4 linked regions of the Homo sapiens genome follow. The protein of the gene in region 4 binds, or shares a complex with, the protein of the main gene of each other region. Each region holds a gene or a part of one and is shown on either strand. Other genes may lie near its edges.

Evidence for each region.
Region 1: NUP85 (region 4) and CETN3 share a complex: the UniProt entries of both Homo sapiens proteins name them as parts of the nuclear pore complex.
Region 2: NUP85 (region 4) and NUP98 share a complex: the UniProt entries of both Homo sapiens proteins name them as parts of the nuclear pore complex.
Region 3: NUP85 (region 4) and NUP107 share a complex: the UniProt entries of both Homo sapiens proteins name them as parts of the nuclear pore complex.

Annotation. Positions count from the first base shown.
Region 1 is NC_000005.10:90,399,336-90,406,899, forward strand, and holds part of CETN3 (centrin-3), read right to left. Parts: intron 6,465-7,564; coding exon 6,350-6,464; intron 215-6,349; coding exon 23-214; intron 1-22. UniProt on the Homo sapiens protein: Plays a fundamental role in microtubule-organizing center structure and function. As a component of the TREX-2 complex, involved in the export of mRNAs to the cytoplasm through the nuclear pores.
Region 2 is NC_000011.10:3,675,352-3,682,915, forward strand, and holds part of NUP98 (nuclear pore complex protein Nup98-Nup96 isoform 1 precursor), read right to left. Parts: intron 4,358-7,564; coding exon 4,203-4,357; intron 1,270-4,202; coding exon 1,158-1,269; intron 1,026-1,157; coding exon 808-1,025; 3' UTR 1-807. UniProt on the Homo sapiens protein: Plays a role in the nuclear pore complex (NPC) assembly and/or maintenance. NUP98 and NUP96 are involved in the bidirectional transport across the NPC. May anchor NUP153 and TPR to the NPC.
Region 3 is NC_000012.12:68,689,811-68,697,374, forward strand, and holds part of NUP107 (nuclear pore complex protein Nup107), read left to right. Parts: intron 1-792; coding exon of another isoform or gene 793-820; coding exon 821-936; intron 937-2,157; coding exon 2,158-2,302; intron 2,303-7,008; coding exon 7,009-7,112; intron 7,113-7,564. UniProt on the Homo sapiens protein: Plays a role in the nuclear pore complex (NPC) assembly and/or maintenance. Required for the assembly of peripheral proteins into the NPC. May anchor NUP62 to the NPC. Involved in nephrogenesis.
Region 4 is NC_000017.11:75,222,366-75,229,929, reverse strand, and holds part of NUP85 (nuclear pore complex protein Nup85), read right to left. Parts: intron 4,828-7,564; coding exon 4,693-4,827; intron 4,589-4,692; coding exon 4,466-4,588; intron 4,233-4,465; coding exon 4,101-4,232; intron 3,908-4,100; coding exon of another isoform or gene 3,880-3,907; coding exon 3,773-3,879; exon of another isoform or gene 3,772-3,772; intron 3,186-3,771; exon of another isoform or gene 1,765-3,185; coding exon of another isoform or gene 1,650-1,764; exon of another isoform or gene 799-1,649; intron 1-798. UniProt on the Homo sapiens protein: Essential component of the nuclear pore complex (NPC) that seems to be required for NPC assembly and maintenance. As part of the NPC Nup107-160 subcomplex plays a role in RNA export and in tethering NUP96/Nup98 and NUP153 to the nucleus.

The sequences.
Region 1 (7,564 bases), on a different chromosome or scaffold from region 4:
ATACGTTTCACTTAAAACTTACTTTCTCCATCACCATCTTTGTCAAATTCTTCTATCATAGCTCGAAGTTCTTCATCACTCATGTTTTCACCCAATTCTCTAGCAACACGTCGCAAATTCCTCAAGCTTATTTTACCTGAATCATCATCATCAAATAGTTTAAATGCCTTGAGTATTTCTTCATGGGGATCTCTTTCCAATATCCAGTCTGTCACTACAGTTTAAAAACATATATATTTTAATAAACCTGCATAATCACAAAGGCATTCATTTGTGAAATCAACTAAATATTAGATGAGAATTAAAGCTGTGACTGTCAACTTTTAGTCTGACAATAAAATGTCAAATGAGATCCCCAAACCCCGAGATAAACCTGAAATTAGAAAAATCAAATCCATATTTTAAATGTTAACCTTTTTTATCATGAGCAACTTGTCTTATTATAAAAGTAAGCAAAACTATATCACACAGAGGCAAAATAAAAAGGACTACATTTATACCATATTTATTTAAGATCTACTATTATCAAGAATTGTACTAGGCTCCACTGACATCAAGCACACAAGGAGTGTGTCATCTACCTGTGGAGAGACATACCAACAAAATAATTGGAGCTAACTAAATAAAAGCTGCTTGCTGACTAAACGTCATACTAACACTGATTCTTCCTCAAATTTAATCCAACTTCAAAACAAGAAAAACTGCAAGAGACAAAAAGTACTGCCATCGCAGACACAGGCACAATCTCAGACAGCATTTGAAAATTCCACTAATACCTTTGTGATTAGAAGAACCTCTTGGTTTTCCAAAATTTACAAAGTAGTAAATAGGATCAAATCTGACTATAGCAGGAAAGCCCACCCAAAAAAAACCTCTGCAAAGAAGGTCTCCTTAAAGCTTACCCATTTTGTTTGGATAAATCACTCTCAGACAACTAACTAAAAATAAATGTAGTTTCAAACCTCAATGGTAATTGTGTATTTTAATACACTAAATATAATCACATGTAATAACATAGTAATAAGCTTAAGTATTTTCAATTTTACCAGTCTTTAATCAATAGCCACAATAAAAATTAAAATAAAAATCTATGGCATAAAAATTGGTAAGTTACTAAATAAAATTCTAACAGTATCTAAATAAGTATCTCTGAAGTAATTATATACACTATCTGCCACTACAAGAAAAGGTATTTATGGCCTTTACTATGCTATTAAAAATAACTCGGTCCTGTTGAAGGTTACAGAATCATTAAAAAAAAAAAAAAAAGCAACTGCTTATAGATGGAAAATACTGGAATGTTTAAGGAACCCAGAATGAAAAAAATACAATCGAAGTCTCCAACAAGCTGTTGTTTTGCTGCTGTTTCACCCGTATTTGGTTCAATAATCACCTATTCAAATGACTATTATATCATCTACACATATTTTCAATAGTTTCCTTTTATCCATTAATTTTATCCAAAAAGGCTTCCAAGTAACTAATTGAAGTATATTACTGTAAGTATGCAAATCATCAAAGCTCATAAATATTCAGTCAAAAAGAAGCTGGCATATCTACAGCCATAACACCAAAATAAAATACCACACTTAACTCTATGGCACATACTCAACTTATTTTGAATTTAGTCCCAACAAAAAAGCAGGACAAGGAAAAAAAGTGTTAAGAAATTTTCTTCACCAATTAAATAATTTACATGACAGGTGAACCAAAAAAGCAGCTTGCTGAAAGTATTAATGTACTTAAAGAAGCAACAGGGTGATTGGGGAACAGATGGGGCTCCAAGATGTATAAATTCTTATCCCACTGGTACTTTAATTGTGTTAGTTATTTCAGAGCTATGTGTCTATATATTCTTTTATCAATATTCTTCCTTAAAATGCAGCTTTTCTTGGGAATTATAAATGCTCATCATTTTGGACAGCAAAAACATTACCTAATATATAACTTTATAATGACTCTCCTCCATGCCTTCAGGTTCTATTCTTGTTCCACAAAGTAGAATTTAATTATAAGGAATATATTTATTTTCAATGAAAATATTAGTAAACTGATATAGAGGCAGTTAAGGTGGGTTTCATTTATTTCACAAAACTCCAAATTTCTGTCCATGCAACTGTATTTTCAAATGATTTAATTACACATACTATCAGAAATGTACTTCATCAAAATACTTTCTTAGACCTTTAATGTGTAAAAATCACTTAAGAATACGGCAAATCCAAAAACATCACATCAAAAGTAAATTAAAAATTATTATAGGTAATGCTAGAAATACAGCTTTAACTGTATTTCTCAATGTCTTTCGGAAATTTCTATCCAAACATACCAGTTAGACATGTTGGACTCCAAACTCATTCCACTACCACCATAGTAACTGCAGCTGCCTCCCCTACCCCAACCAAAAGATAACAGCAACATTTACAGCTAGATTCCATATTTGAAAAGCATAAATCATTTTCAGTCCCACAAACTTAATCAGGTCCTATAGTACTGAGAATACTGTTTTTTTTCTAATTTATTTATTGTTTTAAAACAAGGTCTCGCTCTGTTGCCCAGGCTGGAGTGCAATGGCGTGATCCCAGCTTACTGCAGCCTCAACTCCTGGGCTCAAGCAATCTTCCCACCTCAACCTCCAAAGTAGCTGGGACTACAGGCATGTGCCATCATGTCTGGCTAATTTTTTAAAATTTTTTTGTAGAGACAGGATCTCACTTTGTTGCCCCAGCTGGTCTCAAACTCCTGTGAGCGAGCAATCCTCCCGCCTTGACCTCCCAAAGTGCTGGGATTACAGGCATGAGCCACCAAGCCCAGCCTCTTTTTTATTCTTAAATGTATTTTCTTTTCACCCTCGCCATCCTCAGCGAAAAAAATAGTATTTTCTGTCTGCAGTCTCTCTTCCTTCCAACTCATCATCAATAATACTCTCATCAGTTTTCTTTCTCAAACATATCATATCCCCTTCCCTTAAAAATTGTGAATGATCTCTGCTGACTAGAATTCAAAATCTTCATGTTTTGCAAGACTTTACCAATCTGGCCCAATCCTATGTTTCCAGTCATTTCCCTATGTCTAGCCCAGAACACTACCTAGTTTCCCAAACATGCTATCCGTCTAGTACCATTCTTTGTTGTTGCTGCTTTCTAAGCCTAGAATGCTTTTTCTCTACTCTTCCTGGCAATCTTGGAATGAAATCTTACTCACATTTCCAAAGGCCTAAATTTAAAATCTCCTCTGCAAAGACTTCAATTCCTCTAGATCAGGGATTAACAAATCTTTCCTGTAAAAGGCCAATAGTAAATATTTTAGGCTTTGTAGAGGGCCATAAAGTCTCTAACTACTCACTCTGCCATAGTAGCACAAAAGCTGCATAAAAGAAGGGGTGTGGTGGTGTACAAGCAGCAGCTGAATTTGGTCCAAAGGCTATAGTTGCTGACTTCTGTCCTAGACAAAATTACAATTTACCACATAGTACTATAGCCTGTTGTCACCTATATTTACATTGTAAACTCCCTGAAAGAAGAACCTTTTAGTAACTTTTAATTAAGTCTTCTTCCCAACCCCAGTACAGTACCTAATACCAAAAAATTCAGTGTTAAATAAGCAAAATGAAGACAATAATACAGTATTACAATCTCAATCAGCAATAATAAGTAGTACATGTCAAAAATAGTGTACAAACGTTTGACTTATGTTAGTCTTAAAGACACTAATTCCTAAAATATCTATGTTACTCACTAGCCTCAGGCTGTCTTGACTCTAAACTTAAATTAAATATATTTTAAAGCTTTTTTCCAGTACTAGGAAGAGTCTATAATAGTTAACTGCCAAACTTCATCCAGATATATCTGTGGAACAGTGTCCTTGGGTAGTTCATAAAACTAGGACTCAAATGTTATGATTTAGAATCATCTGTCCCAAAGTATAAAACATATTAATCTGTGGTCAGTGATTAGTTAAAAATAATCAACAAAAGGGGTAATACATAGTTCCTGAATGATTCCCAAACAGTAATACATTTTTATTTGACACCTGGTACTCTCCATAGGTAGCCTTAAGATAGCTAAGATACATGTTGACCCTGTCAAAAGGTTAATCTTTTAGTGTCAAAGCTGAAGTTTAGCCACATCTATTTATTCTAGAAGGAACCCAGTATTTCTGCTCTGTTAATAACATAGAACAGATGGGGTGTCAGGAAAAAGTGGAGGTGGCATGGGATTCTGGTCCCAACTGCCAATAAAAATCACAATTTTTGGCCGGGCGCGGTGGCTCACGCCTGTAATCCCAGCACTTTGGGAGGCCGAGGCGGGCGGATCACGAGGTCAGGAGATCGAGACCATCCCGGCTAAAACGGTGAAACCCCGTCTCTACTAAAAATACAAAAAATTAGCCGGGCGTAGTGGCGGGCGCCTGTAGTCCCAGCTACTTGGGAGGCTGAGGCAGGAGAATGGCGTGAACCCGGGAGGCGGAGCTTGCAGTGAGCCGAGATCCCGCCACTGCACTCCAGCCTGGGCGACAGAGCGAGACTCTGTCTCAAAAGAAAAAAAAAAAAAAAAAAAAAAAAATCACAATTTTTAAATTGTGTTCATTTAAGGTGAAATAACATATTTTGTAAAATTATTAGTGATGATACAGTGCTTACAATAGCCTTTATGAAAAAAGTCAATAAAAAATATACACAAAGTCTATTTTATGTCCCAGTGATGCATATATGATTATTTCGAGCCCCTGAAACAAAGACAATTTTTTAAAGTAATAATAATAGCAAATGCTTAGTAGCACTTACAACATGCTAGGCCCTTTTCTAGGTACTTCACATATCATTAACTTAATCCTTAGAAGAATCTCATGAGAGAATACAATGATCCCCACTTTATAGTTGAAAATGAGGCATGGGGTATTAAAAAGACCAAGTTCCAGAGCTGTAAAGTGGCAAAACCAAGGTATGAACCAAGGGAATCTGGTTCCAAGTGCTAAACCACTATACTGTACTAAACATACCTGGATTATAGCTCCTTCCTAATAGTACCATTTCCACTATATACAAACACCTTGTTTCTACAAATAAACAATCTAAGGTAAAACTAGGAATACTACGATCATAAACTTCAGGAGAGTGTCCATTCTGGGAGAACAAAAGGTGGCTCTCTCCCTTTCCTCAAATAATTAATTCTACAAATTAGAGGAAAAAAGGAAAATGTCCCCAATGGACAAGTTGCCTCTCTAAACAGTCATATATTAGTTCATAAGTTGAGGATCTTCTGTGCTGTGTTTTTTTTCTCTTAGGTTCATCATTTATTTTCCATCTCAACTGCTTATGACTTGAGCTTTTGGATTTAAAAAACTGACTAATGACATGAATCTAAATTTTCTCTGCGTCTACTAATTGCCATTTCTTTTTGCTTCCCCTATTGCTTCTTGATTAATATTTAAAATAAGGGGTTTGTGTATATAGCAGAATTTGTTTCCAAATTTTTAAAATATCTTAAAATACTTATATGATGTGCTTATATCGTGACCCATTGGTTTAGAGAAAAAAAAAAAAAGAAATAAACCTGAATATTTACATATTTTGTAGATAATATTCTAGACAATACATTTAAGTTATAATAGCAACATCCTTGCCTTCCGGACTCTTCTATTTTGAAAAAGCCTGGTCTATATATGCTATAAATAATTCACTAAAATCAACTATAAAAAAATTTAGCCATATTAAGCCTATGACACATTATCTTCAGTTGGTGGTACTAGGATGTTTTCTCCTGCTTCCAGTATGCCCACTGCCTCCTTTACTACTACCCTCTAAACAGATGACTTTATCCACTGAGATCAAGGTCATCCAGAGGATGTAGCCTCTCATAAACTTTGTCAACCTGAAGTCGTGCATTTCATCTACAGCCAAAGATACCAACTACTACCAGTTCCCTCTTCTCCCACTTAGCCAACAAAAATCACATACCAGAAAGGTCTTGGGAAACATTTTCCAAACAGCAGGATATCAAATTTTCTGTTTTATTAAGCAAAAATAATTTTTTGATCACCCTTCAAGTTTTATCACATAATATAAATACAAACAACTTGGAAAAGCATCTTTCTATAAAAAGCTACACAATAGTTCCTTGGTTAGAATCTTCACAACAAAACAAAAGACAAAACTATAAATCTCAGAGCAAAGCCATATTTTTTCTTTGAAAAAAAAACCAACAAAACAAAACTGAGTAAGAGTCACATTATACACCAGTGTTCTATAAGAAAATTCCATAACCTAGAGAATTTAAAATTTAAAAAGTGATATTAATCAGACAATTTCCTAACAGCTGCTGATTACAAAGACTATTAAAATACACACCAACTTCATTAAAATCTTCAAAGGTGATTTTCCCTGTGGCTTCTCTGTCATAATCTTTAAGAATCTTCAGTACATCAGCTTTTTTTACATCAAACCCCAAGGCTCTCATTGCCACCTTTTGGATTAAAAAGGAAAAGCAAATTATAAAGCACTCTTTACAAAAGAATTTCTAATTATTAAGTTTTTACATCTTAAGAGATGACAACACATTAATAAAATATAACTTTTTTGCATGTTTTACCTCTTTAAAATAGCAGTGATAGTGTAATTGTTCTTCACTACTGAAATTAAGTATGCATAAGTTTTTTCATTTATAAATTGCATTTTTTATATGACAAAGTAACCAACAAGTGTTTACAGATTTTACTATATAAAATGCACTAACTTATTGCACAGATAATTTGATTGTTATTTGTTCTGAAGGGATTAACAATCAAAATGAGAAAAAGGCGTGGCATAAATATTAAACAGTTACATGATAGAAGAGATAAAACATTAAAACAAGAATTATCATCAGTCTTTCCATGATTAGTTACCAGGTAAATGATAGGGCTAAGGACCCTGAGTTTAGAGAAAAAAGAGATTTTGTTACTAATAATAAGGAAGGAGACATATTACTGACTAGAGAAGTCTTATTTGGAAAGATTCAAACTGTTCCTTGAAGGATAGATGAAGAGGAGCAGTAGGGTATTTGGGAAGGATGACTGGTATTAAAAGAAACACTGAAACGAATAGGTTCGAAGGACAATGAACAGAGCAGTTTACCTCACCTGAATTAGAAAAGTTCAGGTGAGGTAAACTGCTCACCTGAATTAGGAGGTGAATTCCACCTTAATTAGAAGAGTTCAGGAGGAAGAAAGCAGTTAGCAAATGAAAAAAGTAGTTGGTGGCAAAAGTGTAGAGAACATTCAGTAGAAAGCAAAGGAATCTGAACTTTAAGTAGTATACAATGAGGAGTTATGGTTTATGAGCAATGAACAATTTATGAGCAATGGTGAAAGAATTTTTAAACTATCTAAATTCAGTGGTAGTGTACAAGGTGAACTAGTAAGAAATCATTTAGGAAGCTCCAGGTATGAAATAAGGTCCCAAACCAAGATAGTCAATGGTTACAAATGGAACAGACATTATAAAGGAAGATCAAATCTGGGTAACCAAAAAAAAAAAAAAACAAAAAAAACAGTGGGAAAAGAGAGCCAAAGAGGACTGCAAGAT
Region 2 (7,564 bases), on a different chromosome or scaffold from region 4:
GAACAGGGAGGGTTACCCAACCTGCCATTTTTTATCCAAACTCTGCAGGCAAATCCAGACAGAGTCTCAGCAAGACTGAAAACCAGGGACCAAACCAAACTCTGGGAGCTTCCCACAGACATGTCACATGTGACCAAGGGTTCCTGCACATAGTAGTAGCAAAGGTATGGTGTTCATGGAACTCTAAAGGCAGGAACAAAAACAGCCCTGAAGATCAATCCCTCCGTGACAGGCATTCACTTCTGCCCTAAGTGTGTCAGAAAGATCCCATTTTGTTTCCTAACTCAGGCCAACCCTCCTTTGCCTCCAAAATTCAGTGTTAACTAACCAATTACTTAAGAGACGGATCCCTCTTCCTTCTGTGGATAGTTCATCTGTTAAGGATCCATTATCACCTGTCTCACTCCTCCTAAGGAGTCCTAGTATAAAAGGGCCAGGGTAGGAGTAGGGAAGCTGGTTGGCATGGAGGGTCACAAGATCCAGAATGGCTAGGGATGGAAAAAGAATACCCTGGTTCTTTGGGGGATTCTGCCAAAGGAGCTTTATTGACCATTTTTTTAAAGGAAAAACACTGAATGATCTTGAGGATGGTAAACTGTCTCCTCTTCTGGGTTCCAGAAGCCCTTATGCTACGTTCAGTATTAAGAAAAGCCCTGAACAAGTGGAGGATGCTGCTTCTGGCAGCAGGGAGGGAGGGTAGATGCCACAGCCAACCCAGAGAATGGCAAACAGTGCCAATCCAAACAAGGCAGGGAACCTCTGTGTGGTGTGAATGGGCATGTGACTGTGATGCAAAGTGCCTGGGGCTCACAGGCTCCCAACAGCCAGTTCTCGCAGATAGGACTGGGTAAGGCTGCGCAGTTCGTCCATGGCATAGTCCTCAGGCATGGGAAGCCGGCCAATGTGGGGAGCCAAGAGGCGCAAAGGGACTCGCTGAGGGTCTGGTGTTGAGTCGGAGGTTCTATCAGGAGGATGATGCAGACTCAGCACCACGCGCAGCAGGTTGGCTACACGTTTGGCCATGTCTAGAGAGAAAAACTAGAGTCAAGCACTGAGCATGGGGTCTGGAGAAGGGTGGTAGGCACTGAGGGTGGGGTGTAATAATCATAAAAACAGGAAGCAAGAAGGCAGAAAGAGTGAGGAGGTTAGAGGCTTACCTGACTGAGCCAGGCGATCTTTAGCACTGTAACACTGAATCTGCTCTATCCGACTGCACAGTGAAGTCACTTTGATGTGTAACTGCTCCAGGTCATTACCTGAGCAATCCACCTACAAAGAAGCAGAGAAGCCAATTAATCCAAGGGGAGTTCCTATCACTCCAATCCCACCTATAGACTCTACACAAAACCTTGAAACAACAGTGAGGTGAGGGAGGGGAAAATCCAAGATGATGACACAGGGCCAAGCCACCACCATCTAGTGGAGGACAAGGCACTAATTATGCAGTAATAGCCAAGAGGAAGGTAACACAGTTACCTAGCCTTGGACTAGGAAAAGTCTTGAGATCCCGAACTATACAGCAAGCTTTAATAACACAGCACCAAAAATCAAGATAAATTGGGTTCAGAGAGATGGTATGACTTCTAAAGAGCACACAAGGAAGTAAAAAATGCAGCCAGAACCAACATTTAATTTAGGTCCCCTGACTCCAAGTTTATAGCCTTTTCTAAAACACCAAAAAAGCTGTGTGCAGGGGGCAGGAGGATCAAGAGCAAGACAGGTTATTTGCTCTCATGAAACTGATAGAAAATAAATAAGAAAACACAAAACAGTAATAAATCCTGAAAAATCACAAGCCATGTAGATAATTTAAACAGGTGGATGTGGCAGAGAGAAACTGGATAGCTACTTGAGACTGGAGGACCAAGAGAGGCTTCTTTAAGGAGGTCATATTTAAATTGAGACCTGAATAACAAGGAGAGAGCTCAGCTTTCCAGGCAAAGAGAAGACAGCTAAAACCCCCAAAGGTGGGAATTCAAAGGAGATTTACATGGTGACATGTAGGGTAAGGAGAAGAAGCAGAACAAGATAATACTAGAGAGTTTTTATGTAACATAGGTTTTTTTTTTTTTTTTTTGGGAGAAGGGGGGTCTCGTTATGTTGCTCAGGCTGGTCTCAAGCAATCCTCCTGCCTCAGCCTCCCAAAGTACTAGGATTACAGTCATGCACCACCACATCCAGCTATGTGCTGGCACATTGATAGTACCCTTTGCTTAATCCCTATACTTATCAAGCTATAGTAATTGCTGCTTTACTTGTATGTATCTCCCCCACAAAATCATTATTTTGGTAAGGGCAGAACACATACTGTTTACCTTTATATTCCCCAAACCCACTACAGTGCTTGGCATACAGTGAGTTCTCCATAATAGGTTGTGTGAATGAATTACTCAATATTCAATGAGAAAGTGGTTTCTTCAAGTGATTATTTAGAAATGATGTTCTTGATTCATACTAAAAGTACAGCAAACATTGAATTATGTCTATTATGTGCCAGGCACTGTACTAGGAGTTGGAACTTTGATGAGGATAATAATAGATAACAATTATTAAGCATTTAGTAGAGGCCGAGGTCAGGAGTTTGAGACCAGCCTGGCCAACATGGTGAAACCCCGTCTCTACTAAAATACACACACACACACACAAAGCTGGGTGTGGTGGCACACGCCTGTAATCCCAGCTACTGGGGAGGCTGAGGCAGGAGAATTGTTTGAAGCTGGGAGATGCAGTGAGCTGAGATTGTGCCACTGCCCTCCAGCCTGGGTGACAGAGTAAAACTCTGCCTAAAAAAAAAAAAAAAAAGGCATTTAGTACATGAAAGGTACTATGTAAAACACTTCATGTAGATTTTGTTTAATCTTTGTGAAAATCTGTCAATATGAACTATAATCTGTACTACTGTCTACCCCACCCACCTTTTTCTTTCAGACGAGAGAGGTAGTTAACTTGCTCAAGATTACATAGCCAGTGAATTTGGAAGCCACAAATTGAATCTATAAGTCTGCTTCCAGAACTTGAGCTGTTAACCTCTACACTCTATTGCCTGTAACCGTAAAAGACCTTCCCAAAAGGGGCTTATAGCAACCTGAAAATATGAATAAGTAACTACAATATGGTCTGACAGGTGCACTAGTAGAATAATGTACTAAGTATCTTGGTAGTAAGAAAGTGCAATTAATTATCTCTGGGGAAAAGCAGAGAGAAGTAGGGGTAACAGCAACCTAGATCTTAAAAGGATGAGTTTAAGTGTGCTAGGTAGTGTGGAACATAATATGGTTTGTTAGAAACACCAGAAGTAATTTAGTGTGAGTACAGCAGGCTAGCAAGGCTGGAACGTGGAATAAGAGTGGTAGGAGTAAGGCAGGAAAGGTAAAAGCCTCTAAAAGGACTTGAATCCTATATTTATTATAATGAGTTTGGTTTTTGCACCATAAGCAAGCAGTGGAGACTCATTTTACGACTACAAAGACTGACCTTAAGGCTGCGTGCAGGCGTGCGGTAAGCTCATGCCTGTAATCCCAGCAATTTGGGAGGCCAAGGTGGGCCGATCACTTGAGGCCAGGAATTCAAGACCAGCCTGGCCAATGTGGTGAAACACTATCTCTACTAAAAATACAAAAGTTAGCTGCGTGTGGTGGCACACACCCTATACTCCCAGCTACTTGGGAGGCTGGGGCATGAGACTCACTTAAGACTGGGAGGCAGAGGTTGCAGTGAGCCACGATCACACCACTGCACTCCAGCCTGGATGACAGAGCAAGACTCTGTTCCAAAAAAAAAAAAAAAAAAAAAACTGACCGAAGACATTGACTTTAAAACCCATATTTGCAATTTTAAAACATGCCAAATGATGTGTAAAACAGCTATCCTCACCCTCACCAAATCTCCATTCTTATTTTATCTCTCATCTTTGGGCTTCTCACTCAAACTAGGACTGAACAAGGGGAAGAGACTGTCTATGGACAAGCCTCAGGAATGTCTATTGCACATACTAGTTGGTAATCAACATAAAATAGCATTTTTAAGTTTCGATATAGCTGTCAGAAACGGTTATATCAAATGAGCCTCAGCAAGATGCCTGCTTTGACAGTGCTATCTCTGTCAGTGCATTCTCAAGTGTATACTAAGGCCTTGTGAGGTATCTGAAGATTTAAGGGCCTGAGAAAAGGAAAATCAGGCAGCAGTTTCAGGATCTCAGGTACCTGCTGTATATGGCGGAGCATTTCAATGACTCTAATATAGTCCAGGTAAACAAGCCCAGATGTTTCCCAATCCTGAATTAGGCTGCTGCGCTCTGGAGGTGCCAGGTCTTCCAAGAACCCCTTCAGGTAGTCATAGTTCTCATTAATGATGGCATCTGAAGAAACAAAGTATTGAGCACAATGTCTGCACAAGTGCATAGTTTCCAAAAGTACAGAAGACATGGCAGGAAGACAGAAAGGAAGGAGAAATAATGTTGGCTGGACTTCAGAAGTAAAAGCACATACAGGCATACCTCAAAGATACTGTGGGTTTCATTTCAGACCACCACAATAAAGCAGGTATCACAATAAAATCACAAATTTTTTGGTTTTCCAGTGGATATAAAAGTTATGTTTACACTATACCACTGTCACTTATTAAGTGTGCAACAGCATTATGTCTAAAAAACCAATATACATACCTTAATTTAAAAATATTTTATTGCTAAAAATGTTAATCACTTGAGCCTTCAGCAAGTCATCTTTCTGGTGGTGGAGGGTCTTTCCTTGATGCTGATGGCTGCTGACTGATCAGGGTGTTGCCTGCTGAAGGTTGTGATGGCTATGCTAATTTCTTAAAATAAGATAACTGAAGTCAGTTCTCTCAAACCCAGCTGCTGCTTTATCAACTAAGCTTAAGTAATATTCCATATCCTTTGCTGGCATTTCAACAATGTTCACAGCATCTTCACCAGGAGTAGATTCCATCTCAAGAAACTGCTTTCTTTGCTTGTCTATAAAGCAAACTCCTCATGAGTGACACCAGTTCAGTCACATCTTCAGGCTCCATTTCTAATTCTAGTTATCTTGCTGTTTCCATCACATCTGCAAGTACTTCCCCCACTAAAGTCTTGAACCCTTCAAACTCATCCATGAGGGCTGGATTCAATGCCTTCCATACTCCTGTTATTTAATGTTGATATTTTGACCTCCTTCCATGAATCACAAATGTTTTTTGTGTATTTTTTTGTTGGGGTCTCACTCTCTCACTCAGGCTGGAGCACAGTGGCACGATCTTGGCTCACTGCAACCTCTGCCTCGCAGGCTCAAGTGATCCTCCCTCCAACCTCAGCCTCCCGAATAGCTGCGACCACAGGTGTGTGCCACCAGGCCCGACTAATTTTTTTGTACTTTTGGTACAGATGGGGTTTCACCATGTTGCCCAACCTAATCTCGAACTACTGAGCTCAAGAGATCCACTCATCTTGGCCCCCCAAAGTGCTGGGATTACAGGTGTAAGCCACCATGCCCGGACCCAAATGTTCTTTTTTGTTTTTCTTTTCTTTAAGACAGGATCTCCCTCTGTCACCCAGGCTGGAGTGCAGTGGTGTGATCATGGCTCACTGCAGCCTCAACCTCCTGGGCTCATGCAGTACTCCTGCCTCAGCCTCCTGAGTAGCTGAAATTACAGGAACATAACACCATGCCTGGCCAATCACAAATGTTCCTCTCCCACCATCCGCCCCAGACAGGGTCTCACGGTGTTGCCCAGGAAGGAGTTCACTGGCATGGTCGTGGCTCACTACAGCCTCAACCTCCCTAGGCTCAGGTGATCCGCCAATCTCAGCCTCCCAAATAGCTGGGAATATAGGCACGCACCACCATGCTCAGCTAATTTTTGTATTTTTTGTAGAGATTGGGTTTCACCATGTTGCCCAGGCTGGTCTCGAACTCCTGGGGCTCAAGCAATCTGCCGCTTTGGCCTCCCAAAGTACTGGGATTACAGGTACGAGCCACCGTGCCTGGCCTACAAATACATCTACAATGGTGAATCCTTTCCAGAAGGTTTTCATTTACTTTCCCAGATCCATCAGAGGAATCGCTATCTATATGGCAGCTATAGTCTTATGAAATGTATTTCTTAAATAATAAGGCTTGAAAGCTGAATTACTCCTTTGCCCATGGGTTGCAGAGTAGATGTGTTAGCAGGCATAAAAACATTAACCTCCTTATACGTCTTCATCAGAACTCTTGGCTGACTAGGTGCATCATCAATGAGCAGTAATATTTTGAAAGAAATTTTTTTTTTTTCTGAGCAGGTTTCAACAGTGGGCTTAAAGTATTCAGTAAACTGAGCTATAAACAGATATGCTGTCATCCAGGCTTTGTTTTTCCGTTTACAGAGCACAGGCAGAGTAGATTCAGCATAATTCTTAAGGGCCCTAGGATTTTTAGAATGGTAAATGAGCTTCTGCTTACCATCACCAGCTGAATTAGCCCTAAAGGGAGAGTTAACTTGTCCTTTGCAGCTTTGAAGCCAGGCATTGACTTCTCTTCTCTAGCTATGAAAGTCCTTGGTGGCATCTTCTTTCAATAGAAGGCAGTTTCATCTACACTGAAAATCTGTTGTTTAGTGTAACCATCTTCATCAATGATCTTAGCTAGATCTTCTGGGTAACTTGCTGTACCTTCTCCATCAGCACTTCCTGCTTCACCTTGCACTTTAATGGAATGGAAAGACAGCTTCTTTCCTTAAACTTCATGAAGCAACTTCTGCTAGCTTCAAACGTTTCTTCTGTAGCTTCCTCACCTCTCTCAGCCTTCACAGAACTGAAGGGAGGTTAGGCTTTTGCTTAAGGGAATGTTGTGGCTGGTTTCATCTATCCAGATCACAAAAACTTTCTCCGCATCAGCCAGAAAGCTGTTTCACTTTCATATCATTTATATGTTCACTGGAGTAGCACTTTAAATTTCCTTCAAGAACTTTCCTTTAACACAACTTGGCTGTTTGGCAAAGAGGCTTATCTTTTGTCCTATCTTGGCTTTCAACATGCTTCTCTCTGTACACCTAATCACTTCAAGCTTTTGTTTAAAGTTAGAGTTGTGCTACCCTTCCTTTCACTTGAACATATTTAGAGGCCATTGTAGGGTTATTAACTGGCCTAATTTCGTGATTATTGGGTCTTAGGAAATAGGAAGGCCCAAAGAGAGGGAAAGAGATGGGGATGACCAGTTGATGGAGCAGCCAGAATATGCACATTTATCAACTGACCATCTTATATGGATGCAGTTGGTGGCACCCCAAAACAAAACAGCAACATCAAAGATTGCTACTCACAGATCACCATAACAGATATAGTAATGAAAAAGTCTGAAATAATGTGAGAACCACCAAAATGTGAAACAGAGACAGACATGAAGTAAACATATGTTGGAAAAATGGTGCTAATATACTTGCTCTGTGCAGTTTTCCAAACCTTTAATTTGTAAAAAATGTAGTACCTGCAAAGTACAACAAAATGAGGTATGCCTGTATTCTGAAATTCTCCAATGGAAAATGTGAAGAATTTCTAGTTTCAGGCCTTAAGGAGATTATTTCTGGT
Region 3 (7,564 bases), on a different chromosome or scaffold from region 4:
ATGACATGGGTATTGTTGGCCCTGTTTTACCAAAACTGAAAGTGAGACTTAGAGAAGTTAACTAATATATACAATAAGTATGTAAATAGGCTGGATGCAGTGGCCCATGCCTATAATCTCAACACTTTGGGAGGCCAAGGTGGGTGGATCACTTAAGGCCAGGAGTTCAAGACTAGCTTGGCCAACATGGCAAAACCCTATCTCTACTAAAAATACAAAAATTAGCTGGCGTGGTGGCACATGCCTGTAATCCCAGCTACTCCGGAGGGTGAGGCAGGAGAATTGCTTGAACCCGGAAGGCAGAGGTTGCAGTGAGCTGAGATTGTGCCACTGTACTCCAGCTGGGGCGACAGAGCAAAAAAAAAAAAAATCCCAGTTCCATTATTTACATACTCTTTTTTTGTTCTGAGACAGAAAAAAAAGAGTATGTAAATAATGGAACTGGGATTCAAACAATGATCTGTTTACTCCAAAGTTTATGCCCACTACACTGCACTGCCTCAGTATGCCTTATAAAATTAAAATATGAAGAATCCGTTGACTGATTAGTGTCTTTAACTGCTCAGTTATTCTATAATGAAAGCATCTGTAATTGCAGTAAAATGTTTCCTGTTAGGCTCAGTAGTACCTACAGCTCAAATTTAGAAAAATAAGTTAAATCCTTGTATCATGGAAATGTTAACATTTAAAGTATTTATTTGGTTAGAGTCTAAATAATGGAAAACTGAAAAATTTATTCTTCATTGTTTGTTTGCTTACTTTGTTTTGATAATGAATGCTCACGCACTTTAGGTTCTTTCTACCAACCTTTTGTTTATAGTTACCCCAACAAGCCGAAGCTTACTAAGGCAGCCAGATATTTCCTGCATTCTTGGAACAGGAGGGAAGTCGCCCCGACTTACGCAGTCTTCAGGGTTCTTTGGAAATCTCTCCATGGTATGTAGAAAAATAGGGCTAAGAACTCCTTTTGGGTCGAGTGTGGTGGCTCACATCTGTAATCTCAGCACTCCCTGAACTCCTGACCTCAAGTGATTCTCCCGCCTTGGCCTCCCAGAAGTCAGGAGTTTGAGACTAGCCTGCTTAGCATGATAAAACCCTGTCTCTACTAACAATAAAAAAATTAGCTGGGAGTGGTGGCTTATGCCTGTAATCCTAGCTGCTCGGGAGGCTGAGGTGTGAGAATTGCTTGAACCCAGGAGGCAGAGGTTGCAGTGACCTGTGATTGCAAAAGAAAAAAAAAAGAGAAAAAAGAACTTCTCCCTTTTTATAAAAATATGATATTTGATGTAAAAGTCTTTTAACAAATATTGAGTCAGAATCATCATAACAGTAACTTTAGGTTATATGGATTGAAATAATTAGACAGTAAAAAAACTGAAAACCTTATGCATCTGATATCACAGATGGAAACTGTGACACCAGCAACCTTTAGATGAAAATAAGATGTTTTAATCTGTCAGTTTGCTGACCAGAAGAAGTACATGCTGTGGTTGGTTGCTGATGGCTATAAAATCTGATCCCTGTTTTGAAGCATACAAGAGTAGGAATCAGAGGTTAACAGATGAAGAATATCTTAAGGAAGAGATAAAATGTATTAAAGGGGATAAAAGAGAAAATTGGAAAAAGTAGGTGAGATACTCTTTAGGAATCACTATGGAACAGTATTAAAAATAGCAAAAGAAATGTTATGTAAGCTGTGATGCAGAATGACTTCACCTAAGTATTAAAAATACACTATAGTAGCCGGGCATGGTGGCTCACATCTGTAATCCCAGCATTTTGGGAGGCTGAGGCAGGTGGATCACATGAGGCCAGGAATTTGAGACCAGCCTGGCCAACATGGTGAAACCCCATACCTACCAAAAATACAAAAATTAGCCAGGCGTGGTGGCACGTGCCTGTAGTCCCAGCTACTTGGGAGGCTGAAGTGGGAAGATGGCTTGAGCCTGAGAGGCAAAGGTTGCGTTGAGCCATGATCGTGCCACTGAACTCCAGCCTGGGCAACAGATCCAGACCTTATCTCAAGAAGGGAAAAAAAAAAAAAAAGACGCATACATACATATAATTTTTAGAAACCTTATTTGTTTTTAAAGTATCCACTCAGTGACAATAACTCCATCACTTTTCTGTATTTTTACTTTTTTGTTTTTTTTTAAGGTTACTAATCTGGATGACAGTAACTGGGCAGCTGCATTTTCATCACAGCGTTCCGGGCTGTTCACAAACACAGAGCCCCACAGTATAACAGAAGATGTAACTATCAGTGCTGTTATGTTACGTGAGGATGATCCTGGAGAAGCTGGTAAAATGGCATTGAGCTTTGTGACAAGTAGCTTTTCACTTTAGCAAGATGAAGGAAACCATTTCTTCCTGTTTCTGAACGTCATTATGTTTTTCTTTTCTTTCTTTCTGTCTTTTTTTCTTGAGAGAGTAGCTTAAACAACAGATTTTTGTGTGTGTGTTTTTTGAGACAAGAGTCTCACTCTGTTGCCGGGCGCGGTGGCTCATGCCTATAATCCTAGCACTTTGAGAGGCCGAGGCGGGCAGATCACGAGGTCAGGAGTTCAAGACCAGCCTGGCCAACATGGTGAAACCTCGTCTCTACTAAAAATACAAAAATTAGTTGGGTATGGTGGTGCACACCTGTAATCCCAGCTACTTGAGAGGCTGAGGCAGGAGAATCGCTTGAACCCGGGAGGCAGAGTTTGCAGTGAGCTGAGATCGCACCATTGCACTCCAGCCTGGGCTACAGAGCAAGACTCCGTCTAAAAAAAAAAAACAAAAAAAAAAACAGTCACTCTGTCACCCAGGCTAAATGCAGAAATGCAGTGGCACAATCATGGCTCACTGCAGCCTTAACCTCCCAGGCTTAAGCAATTCTGCAGCCTCAGCCTCCTGAATAGTTGGGACTGCAGGCATGTACCACCATGCCTAGCTAATTTTTTTTTTTTTTTTTTGAGATGGAGTCTCGCTCTGTCACCCAGACTGGAGTGGAGTGATGGGATCTTGGTTCACTGCAACCTCCGCCTCCCAGGTTTAAATGATTCTCCTGCCTCAGTCTCCAGAGTAGCTGGGATTATAGGCGTCTGCTACCACACCCGGCTAATTTTTGTATTTTTAGTAGAAACGGGGTTTTGCCATGTTGGCCAGGCTTGTCTCAAACTCCTGACCATGGGTGATCCACCCGCCTTGGCCTCCCAAAGTGCTGGGATTACAGGTGTGAGCCACTGCGCCTGGCCGCCAGCTAATTTTTTATTTATTTATTTATTTATTTATTTTTTTTTTTAGACGGAGTCTCACTCTGTTGCCCAGACTGGAGTGCAGTGGTGCAATCTCGGCTCACTGCAACCTCTACCTGCTGTATTCAAGTGATTCTCCTGCCTCAGTCTCCTGAGTAGCTGAGATTACAGGTGCCCACCACCACGCCTGGCTAATTTTTGTATTTTTAGTAGAGAGAGGTTTCACCATTTTGGCCAGGCTGATCTCGAACTCCTGACCTCAAGTGATCCGTCCTCCTCAGCCTCCCAAAGTCCTGAGATTACAGGCGTAAGCCACTGTGCCCAGCCTAATTTTTTATTTCTTTATAGAGACAGGGTCTACAAAGACCAGCCCAGGCTGGTCTCAAACTCCTGGACACAAGTGATCCTACCGCCTCAGCCTCTCAAAGTGCTGGGATTATAGGCAACAACATAAATTTATTTTCTCACAATTCTGGAGCCTAGATGTCTGAGTTAAAGGTCTTGGCAGGGTTGGTTTTCTCTGAAGCCTCTTCTCTTGGCTTACAGATGGCTGTCTTCCTCCTGTGTCTTCATCTGGTCTTCTGTCTATAATATATTTTTCCTTAAGCTAATTAGTTGTGGTTATGGCAATGGTATTTGATACAGTATCACTAGAAGGTTGAGAACCTCACCTTGGTTCTCAGTCTGAGCAGCATCTTGCCATTTTATCTTTTAATGTAAATAGCAGCCTGTTACGTTATTAGACAAGTCTCATATTGTAATTTTTTTCTTATTTGTGCTGTTGAAAGAGCATCTCTTTCTTTAGGTTTAGTTCTTAATCTAACATTGTTGATGTGTTTTGTTTTCTCCTGGACCGTAATGCTGTTATTTTTTTTCAGATAGTGTTATGACCACTGTACAAGCATTAACTCATGTAATCCTTATGGTGGTCCATTAAATAGTTACAATAATTATTCCCATTTTAGAGAAAAGGAAACTACTGCTCAAAGTGGTTAAGTAACTTACCTCAAACCACCTGGCTAGGAAGTAGTGGTACCAGGATTTGAAACTAAGCAGTTTAGCTCCAGAGCCCTGCTCTTAACACTTTGGTAACTACTACTTTCTTGTAGTATCTGTCAAAAACAGGTACTCGTATTAAGTGACTCAAAATACTTTCTACTTAGGCCAAGTGCCTGTATTTTCCCAGAGTGGAACATGCCATTTAGTATGTATTATAACTTTCTCCACTACTTTGTAATGGTGTGCTTAAAATATAATTCAGATATTTTTAAATCTGGCTCAATTTCTTAAGTAATTGTTTATAAAATAACTAGTATATCTTTGAGATCTTAAAAGACCTTTAGGTATCAAAAGAAAAAATAGATAAATTGGGCTACATCAAAATTTTAAACTTTTGTGCACGAAAGAATACAATCAGCAAAGTGAAAAGGCAACCCACAGAATGAGAGAAAATATTTGCAAATCATATATCTGCTTAGGGGTTAATATCCAAAATGTATAAAAACTGCTACAACTCAACAACAAAAAAACAACCCAATTTAAAAATGAGCAAAGAAATAGAATAGACAGAGGCTGGACGCAGTGGCTGATGCCTGTAATCCCAGCAATTTGGGAGGCTGACGCGGGTGGATCACCTGAGGTTGGGAGTTCGAGACCAGCCTGACCAATGTGGAGAAACCCTCTCCCTACTAAAAATACAAAATTAGCTGGGCATGGTGGCGAATGCCTGTAATCGCAGCTACTCGGGAGACTGAGGCAGGAGACTCGCTTGAGCCCGGGAGGCAGAGGTTGCGGTGAGCTGAGATCATGCCATTGCACCTCCATCCTGGGCAACAAGAGCGAAACTTCATCTCAAAAAAGAAAGAGAGAAAGAAAGAAATAGAATAGACACTGTTCTAAAGAAGATTCACAAATGACCAGTAAGCACATGAAAATATACTCAAATGTCACTAATCATTAGGAAAATCCAAATCAGAACTACAGTGAGTTACAAGATACTGCCTTACACCCGTTAGTGTGGCTACTGAAAAACAAACAAACCAACAACAAGAACAAAAACCCAGAAAATAACAAGTATTGACAACAATGTGGAGAAATTCAAATCCTTGTGCACTATTGGTTGGAATGTAAAATAGTACAGCTGCTATGGAAAACAGTATGGCAGTTCCTCAAAAAATTAAAAATAGAATTACCATATGATCCAGCAAACCTGCCTCTGGGTATATATCCAAAAGATTGGAAAGCAGAGTCTCAAAGAAATATTTGTACATGCATGTTCATAGCATGATTCATAGTAGCCAAAAGGTAGAAGCAAGCCAAGTACCTGTTGATAGATGAATGGGGGAAACAAAATGTGATCTATACATACAGTGGAATATTATTCAGCCAAATATGAAGGACATTCTGACACATGCTACAACATGGATGAACCTTGAGAACATTATGCTAAGTGAAATAAACCAGTCACAAAAGGGCAATACTCTATGGTTCCACTTACATGAGATATTTAGAATAGTCAACACATGTAGGGACAGAAAGTAGATGGATAGTTGTCAGGGGCTGGGGTAAGTGGAGAGTGGGGAGTTAATGTTTATTAAGTACAGAGTTTCAGTATTACAAGATGAAATAGTTCTGTGGATACATAGTGGTGATGGTAGCACAACAATGTGAATGTACTTACTGACACTGAACTATACACTTAAAAATGATTAAGCCAGGGATAGTGGCTCATGCCTTTAATCCTACCACTTTGGGATGCTGAGACAGGAGTTAGCAAGACCCTGTCTCTACAGACTAATAAAAAATTAGCTGGGCATGGTGGCTGGTATATACCTATAGTCCCAGCTACTGGGGAGGCTGAGGTGGGAGGATCACTTGAACCTAGGAGTTTGAGGCTATAGTGAGCCATGATTGCACCACTGTACTCCAGCCTAGGTGACAGAGCAAGATCCCCCTCTCTTAAAAAAAAAAAAAAGAAAAATGATTAAGATAAATTTTATATTATGTGTATCTTGCCAATTAAAAAAAATTTTGAGGCTGGGTGCGGTGGCTCACGCTTATAATCCCAACACTTTGGGAGGCCAAGGTGGGCGGATCATGAGGTCAGGAAATCAAGACCATCCTGGCTAACACAGTGAAACCTCGTCTCTACTAAAAATACAACAAGTTGGCTGGGCATGGTGGCACGCACCTGTAGTCCCAGCTACTTGAGAGGCTGAGGCAGGAGCACCGCTTGAACCTGGGAGGTGGAGGTTGCAGTGAGCTGAGATTGCGCCACTGCACTCCAGCCTGGGTGACAGAGTGAGACTCTGTCTCAATTTTTTTTTTTTTAATATAGCAGTGAATTTATAAAAGACTTGTAGCCATTTAAATTTTCAAACAGGCTGGGTGCGGTGGCTCACGCCTGTAATGCCAGCACTTTGGGAGGCTGAGGCGAGCAGATCACCTGAGGTCAGGAGTTTGAGACCAGCCTGGCCAATATGGTGAAACCCCATCTCTACTAAAAATACAAAAATTAGCTGGGCATGGTGGTACATGCCTGTAATCCCAGCTAGTTGGGAGGGTGAGGCAGGAGGATCACTTGAACCTGGGAGGTGGAGGTTGCAGTGAGCTGAGACCGTGCCATTGCACTCCACCCTGGACAACAAGAGTGAAACTCCATCTCAAAAAATAAATAAACAAATAAATACATTTTCAAACAAACGGAATTACCTAGAAGTACGTCACTTAACTTTTCTTTATTCCTTTTTTTTTTTTTGATGTGTTCTAGCATCCATGAGTATGTTTTCTGATTTCCTGCAGTCTTTTCTGAAGCACTCTTCGAGTACAGTTTTTGATCTTGTGGAAGAGTATGAAAACATCTGTGGTAGTCAGGTAAGCTAATTTCACTCCGTCGTTAGTCAAACTTCAGTATTTTTAGTTTTCATAAACAGCATTAACCTAATTTTCATAGTGTTTAAGGGAGGTGTCTTAGGGGAACAGTGGCAGGAGTGGAGGGAAAGTCAACTAGAGCATCCCTGCGTCTTACATATTGAGGGCCCATACAAGATTTCTTTGGGAGAAAAAAGGATTCTGCTGCTTTAAAAAAGGAAAATCCAGCCAGATGCAATGGCTCACACCTGTAATCCCAATGCTTTGGGAGGCCAAAGCAGAAGGATCACTTAAACCCAGCAGTTCAAGACCAGCCTGGGCAACATGGGAAGGCCTTGTCTCTACAAGAAATACATTTGCCAAGCATGGTGCTATGTACCTGTGATTCTAGCTCCTTGGGAGGCTCAGGTGGGAGGATTGCATGAGCCGCAGAGTTTGAGGCTACAGTGAGCCAT
Region 4 (7,564 bases):
GCTGTTGCTACCCAGATTTCTAGCTGATGGTTATGTCGAAACCATTGGAGAAGCCAGTGAAAAGGCTATAGGGGACCCAGGCTAAGGGAGCCAAAGCCTTAGCCTGCACGAAAGCCACCAACAACTGGAAGGAAGGGCTGAGACAGTGCCCGGTGTCTTCCCAAAGGATCCAGCAGCCTCCAAGGCTGGAAGGCAGCAAGCACTGAGAGCAGAGAACTAACAACACAACTCAAGTGACGGAGACCAGACATAGTGCTGCACAAAGCCACCACGGTCTCTCTACAGGGCCCAGCAGGCCTGAACCACACAGTTAGGTCTTAGATCACACACGCACACACTCCCACTCTCACTCTGTCTCTCTCTCACTCTGAAGGATTCTGAGTGAGCAGCCGAGACACAGAGCAGGTGGGCATCCTTAACATTCAAGGCAAGAAAGGCCTAATTATCAGCTCCAAAGTAGCCCTCTGCTGAAAACGAGAGAACGCTGCGGAGTTGGGAAGACCAGCTACGGTGAAGGTGACCCCTCTAAGCAACTGTAGCCCCAAATGAGCTGTTTGTCCTGTACTAAGGTCACTGTCAACTCCTTACCCAGGCCCCATCTTGCTTGTTGGGGGCTCTGGAGTAATCAAAGCTCCAGTGCCTCTACCTGCTATTCTGGAAATGGGGTGTGAGGTTTGTAAACACTGCTGCACCCTGCATCCAAGATTGTGGGCTGGGCCAAAATACAAGTCAGAAGATTCTAGATTCAGCAGACATTAAGCTGGAACTCTTCTTGGTTATTGAAGGAAGACTTGTCACCTTTTAGCTCGATACTTTTGGAGGACTTGAAGGGCACCAGGAAACTGCCGACATCTTGCCCAACTCCCAGTGAAGTGCACCCCAGCTGTTTCCTCTTGCCAGACAGCAAGGAACTGGCCCGTCTTCAGAGGAAGCTGTAAGCCAGGAGGGAAGAAGGGACCCTGTGGAGGACTCCTGCCATCTCCTTTCAGCTAAGGGGTTAGCAGTCAAGCATGCCCACCCAGGCACTGAGAGACAAACCCCTGGCCCTTTAGCAGGGCTGACGAACTACAGCCTCTGAGTCAGGATCCCCTGGCTGCCTTTTCTGCCCCTTAGGGTCTGGCACGATTATTGACATAGGAGTAAATCAGGGGCCCACTTAGAAACCTCCCTTCTCCATGTTCATATGAAGGTGGTGTGAACAGGAAAGGAAAAAAAAGAAAGAAACCTTTTTTCTAATGCCTTTAAAAAGGCATGCCAACAGCTCACTGGCTCAAGTCCAGAAAGAGACACACTTCCCTGCCGCCCAGAACTGTGCATGGGTCTGACTGATACATCCCATGAGAAAACAAGTGCCCACAAGACCCCAATTCAACCTTTCCCCAGAGCCAGGAGGGCACACTTCCTAAAACTGCTACTGCCTCTGAAGACATTGCAGCCCATTTCACAATTCCTGGGACAAGCTCTGCTTTTCTGTTCCTCTTTCAAAACAGGATAGGAGGTAGCCTCGTGATCAGAGAAATGCAAACTCCAAGATTTCCCACTAACAGAGCTCAGATCCCTTCCTGCTTGTGAGAGTGGAGAGAGGCTGAGACTGGGGGACTGCAAGCCTAATCATTCCTTGTCTGTGTCCGGCACGAGAGTGATGTTGTTCACCCCTCTTCATGGTACTTCTCTTTCTCTTCTGCCACTGGAAACAGCAGGATGCTTTCCCCTTTTATACTCCCTGCATCCAACAGACTTCTTCTGCTCAAATCTGTTTTATTCCTAAAAATCCAGATACAGGGCTTATAAATTAGGAAGCCCTGGTGAAACTCACTCACTGTTATAACACAGGAAATTTAGAATACTCAACTATGGGCAGAGACACCAACAAAGCCAAACGATGGTGTGTTTGTGTGTTTTTAAGTTATTCTCACTAATTCTTCCATGCAGGGACTTCTCACAATGTTTACAGGCCTGTGAAAATATTGACACAAAACTTGACTTTCAGGCCGGGCATGGTGGCTTACGCCTGTAATCCTAGCACTGTGGGAGGCCAAGACAGGCAGATCGCTTGAGCTCACAAGTTCAAGAACAGCTTGGGCAACATAGTGAAACCTCATCTCTCCAAAAAAAAAAATAATAATTAGCCAGGCATGGTGGCGCACACTTGTAGTCCTAGCTACCTGGAAGGCTGAGGCAAGAGGATCACTTGAACCCAGGAGGTCAAGGCTGCAGTGAGCTGAGATCACTCCACTGCACTCCAGCCCGGGTGACAAAGTGAGACCCTGTTTCAAAAAAAAAAAACTTGGCAGGGCGCGGTGGCTCACGCCTGTAATCCCAGCACTTTGGGAGGCCGAGATGGGCAGATGACCTGAGGTCAGGAGTTCCAGACCAGCCTGCCTAGGCAACATGGTGAAACCCTGTCTCTATTGAAAAACACAAAAATTTGCTGGGCGTGGTGACGGACACCTGTAATCCCAGCTACTTGGGAGACTGAGGCAGTAGAATTGCTGGAACCCAGTAGGTGGAGGTTGCAGTGAGCCAAGATCACGCCACTGCACTCCAGTCTGGGTGACAAGAGCAAAACTCTGTCTCAAAAAAAAAAAAAAAAAAAAAAAAAACCCAGAAACAAACACACAAAAAACTTGTTTTTCATTCCCCAAATCTAGTATCATTTTCTTGAAGCCCTGGCATTCTTTTGGCCAAAACAAGAAAAGCAGGTAGGGCGAAGGAAACTCTTCCCATGCCCAGATCTACAAACAGCCAGTTGAGGTCAGTGAATCTGACACCTGATCAAGGCCATCTTCTGCCATTACCCACTTCCTCCCTTCCCAGCACGTCTTCAGTGCAATGCCCACCATCCAGGGTGCACAACAAGGAAGGGGACCTTCTTTCTGACTTACCATATATGGAGAGTTCTGGAAAGGTTTACCTTTGATTGATTATGTTTGGCACTCCCTTTCCTGCCTTGCTAAAGATTCAGTGCAATCATAGAACACCCTCTTTTGGATAGAGGGCTGGAAATTCTGAATAATACCCAGCCTGAAGCCCAGTGGTTCGGTAGCTCACGTCACTGGAGTGAGACTCTTGGAACACGCCATCCCATAAGGTGTCCATTAGGTGCCAAGAAACAGGCTTGCTGGCTTTTTCTAGATTTTAAATGTCAAAGTAGTTTCCCGCGATGTTATTTTAAATGAACATCCCTGAAATGGAAACAGTTATGTATATGGTAGCCCTCAAGCCTCCAGGAAGTCCCTAAGCTCACCCAGAGAAAAGCCATTATCTACCTGTGGCAAGTCAAGCAGGGGAGCAGATGCTATGGTTTGAAGGGATCCCCTCTAAAACCCCAGTTTTGCCAATGTGATAGTATTAAGAGGTAGGGCCTCTAAGAGGTGATTAGGCCAGGAGGTGATTAGGCCACATCCTCCCTCATGAATGTGATTGGGTGCCCTTATAAAGCGACTTGATGAAGGGAGTTTGTCCTTCTTGCCCTTCCACCACATGAGAACACAGTGTTCAAGGTGCCATGTTGGAAGCAGAGAGCAGCCCTCACCAGCAACATTGCCAGTGCCCTGATCCTGGACTTCCTAGCCTCCAGAACGGTGAGAAAATAATCTTTTTCTTTATAAATTATCTGGTCTCAGGTATTCTGTAATATCAGCGTGAGATGGACTAAGATAGCAGGTCTGAGGGAAGAAGGGTAAGGAAGGAACAGGCCACTCTAGAAACGCAAGGTGGTGATATTTGTACACCTAAAAATGGTTACAGTGGGGGGTGGGAGAGATCCTACCTGCACTCTTTGATTACTTGATGGATGTCAAACTCAAAGGCTGCCAACAAGATGTTGTCCAGGGGTTCTGGGCTGCTCTCACCTCCCAGAAACAGGTCCAGGCTGGACTGTGGAAAGGTGATGAGACACTCAATCCTGAGGACGGAAGCAGAGACTCGGGGCAGGCAGGGCTGCTGTATAACGAACCCCAGAGAAGGTGCCTTGTTCTTTCACTAAGGGCCAAAGGAAAGGGTCTTCCTGTTCCTCAGGGAGGAATTCAAAGAGAATGACCCATCAGGGCGCCCCCAGGACTCCTACCCCCACCCTTGCCCACCCCGAGCTCACTCACCTGGGCATAGTAGTGCAGATCAATGGGTTTTACTGTGGGATTGGAGTACAAGAGCCGAGTCACTAGGAAATGATACCAATTACTCAGAAGTTCCTTCTGCTCTAACAAGGCAGCTTCGTCTCCCAGCATAATCTGAGGAGAGACATTTGTGCTGAACTCTGTCCTCCTCTCAGGGGTACCTTCTCCATAATGCTCCTGCTCTCAGCTAAGGGCACCGGATTTCAACTAGTCTGAAAGCTCTCGCCATCACGGCAGAGCGACAGACAGCCCTATCCAAGGAGGACCAAGCTCCTGCCACTGCTGCACTGGATGCCACAGCCCCCATAGGAAGCCAACATGGATGCAATCTGAACTGCTTCCCAGACCTTCAAGAGAGACTCCAGGTGAGGGCTGGTGGCGAATGTGCTGTCCTGGAGGTACCGCTCACATTCCTCGTGCCAGTGCTGCCACTTCAGCTCCAGCTCTGTCAGTGTCTGGGTGTTCCCGGGCTAAGGGAGAGACCAGCCATGAGACGTCATCCCATCCACACCCTTTATATTTAGTGAATCACGCATCTCCTGTGACCCAGCAGAGCAAAGCTACCCCCACGTACACTAAGAATGGGCATTGTCCTCATCAGGTCCCCCATGATTCGGCATATGCCTGCAGAGGCGGGGCTGGCATCGGCTTCCTTGGAGAGCATCTGTCGGGCCTCATCCAGCCGGCCCTGCAGCACCAAGATGGTCACCTGGGAGGAGATCCGGGCCCATAAGCATTGGCAGGAGGCCTGGCCCTGCCGAGGCGTGAGGAGGCCAGTCCCCTCACCCCACACTTTGGCTTTTTAACTCTTCACACACAGGCTTCTTTCTGCACCTGAGTCTGCCCTGGGAAGAATGATGGCTCTTTCCCTCCAGAAGTAATCTATCACATCCAATCTCATGGCTTTGTCACCTCCACTATGTTTTTCAAACAGCCAGCTGTAGTCCATTATAGCCTGTGACCACCTTTTTTTTTTTTTTTTCCAGAGTTCCCCTCTTGTTGCCCAGGCTGGAGTGCAATGGCATAATCTCGGCTCACTGCAACCTCCACTTCCCGGGTTCAAGCGATTCTCCTGTCTCAACCTCCCGAGTAGCTGAGATTACAGGCGCATGCCATCACGCCCAGCTAATTTTTGTGTTTTTAGTAAAGATGGGGTTTCACCATATTGGCCAGGCTGGTCTCGAACTCCTGACCTCAAGTGATTCCCCGCCTCGGCCTCCCAAAGTGTTGGGATTACAGGCGTGAGCCACCACGCTCAGCCCCAGCTTTTCAAAAATGAAAGAAACAGAAAAACATGTTCCTCTACCTGCTTCCCCCCACCCCTTCTCCACCATCATGGTGTGTGCTGTTGATTATTTCTCCCACCATCTTCTCACAAAATGTCCAGGATCATGCAATTCCTGGCCAAGAAACAAAAGCAAAATCGTCCCATTCACCAGTGGATTCAGATTAAAACTGGTAATACAGGGCTGGGCGTGGTGGCTCACAGCTGTAATCCCAGCACTTTGGGAGGCCAAGACGGGCAGATCACAAAGTCAGAAGATCGAGACCATCCTGGTTAACATGGTGAAACCCCATCTCTACTAAAAATACAAAAAATTAGCCAGGCGTGGTGGCAGGCGCCTGTAGTCCCAGCTACTTGGGAGGCTAAGGCAGGAGAATCGCTTGAATCTGGGCGGCGGAGGTTGCAGTGAGCTGAGATTGTGCCACTGCACTCCAGCCTGGATGACAGAGTGAGACTCCATCTCAAAAAAACAAAACAAAACAAAATAAAACAAAATTGCTAATACAGTTAGCTACAACCCCAAGAGGAGGGACTGGAGAAGAACCAAGCTGGGTCTGCCAGGAATTACACATGAGATGAGTCTACACGTAAGACTATCATCTTATCACATCAAGCTGAAACTGTCACCACTATCTGGAAAGGTGGACATACTTTGTTGAGAAAATGGTTTTTCTCTGATTATAAGCTCTACAATAGTAGGTTGGTTCAATAATAAATATGTGAGAAGTTTTGTTTGGAAAAAAATTAAAATGAAATAATATAAAATATCAGAATGCATTAAATAAAATGGTTCATAAAAGTTTCAGTTCAAATATAAATATGTAAAATAAATACACTCAGGCCAGGCGTGGTGGCTCACGTCTGTAATTCCAGCACTTTGGGAGGCCGAGACGGGTGGATCACCTGAGGTCAGGAGTTCAAGACCAGCCTGGTCAACATGGTGAAACCCTGTTTCTACTAAAAATACAAAAATTAGCCGGGCGTGATGGTGCATGCCTGTAGTCCCAGCTACTCGGGAGGCTGAGGAACAAGAATCATTTGAACCCGGGAGGCAGAGGTTGCAGTGAGCCAAGATCACGCCACTGCACCCCAGCCTGGGTGACAGAGTGAGACTCCATCTCAAAAATAACATAACATAACATAAAATATACACTCAATGCAAATAGTCTTCACTGTTCAGTCTTTATCTGTGAATCTGCCTACTCACTAAAATTTATCTGTAACCCCCAAATCAGTATTTGTGGTACTTTCAAATCAAAATTAAGAGTGGCAAGAATATTGAGTTGCTTGACACACACTAAACAAGGCTTTCTCGTGATGCAGTTAGTGCCACATTTTTTTCATTTTTGTACATTTTCTTGGGTCCCCACGTGTAGTACTGAAGTGCTTTCTAGTGTTGCTAAGTGCAAGAACTATGGGAGGTGTTAGATAAGCTTCATTCAGACACGAATTATAGTGCTGTTGGCCCTGAGTTTTTTTTTTTTTTTTTTTTTTGAGACAGAGTCTTGCTGTCGCCCAGGCTGGAGTGCAGTGGCGCGATCTCGGCTCACTGCAAGCTCCACTTCCCAGGTTCACGCCATTCTCCTGCCTCAGCCTCCCGAGTAGCTGGGACTACAGGCGCCTGCCACCATGCCTGGCTAATTTTTTGTATTTTTAGTAGAGACGGGGTTTCACTGTGTTAGCCAGGATGGTCTTGATCTCCTGACTTCATGATCCGCCCGCCTCGGCCTCCCAAAGTGCTGGGATTACAGGCGTGAGCCACTGCGCCTGGCTGACTTCACTGTTAATGATTCAACAATATTATGTCAAGTAAGTTGTCTCCAAACAGATACACACATAAAACAAGTGATCGGTTATATATTGATTGGTTGAACAAAATATGACCAGAGGCTTGCAGGAACCTAACCCTGTATTTCCCCTAGGAGCAATGGTTCAATATTCACTAATTCAGTATTCAAGGCACTGCACTCCAGCCTGGGCAACAAGAGCAAAACTCTATCTCAAAAAAAAAAAAAAAAAAAAAAAAAAAAATCACAAATATATAAACATATACATACTGATAACTCCCAACTTTTCCTCTCTAGCCCAAACTTCCTTGTCTGAATTCCAGCTTTGTATATCCAAGTGCCTAGTCAACATCTCCACTTAGATCTTGAATAGG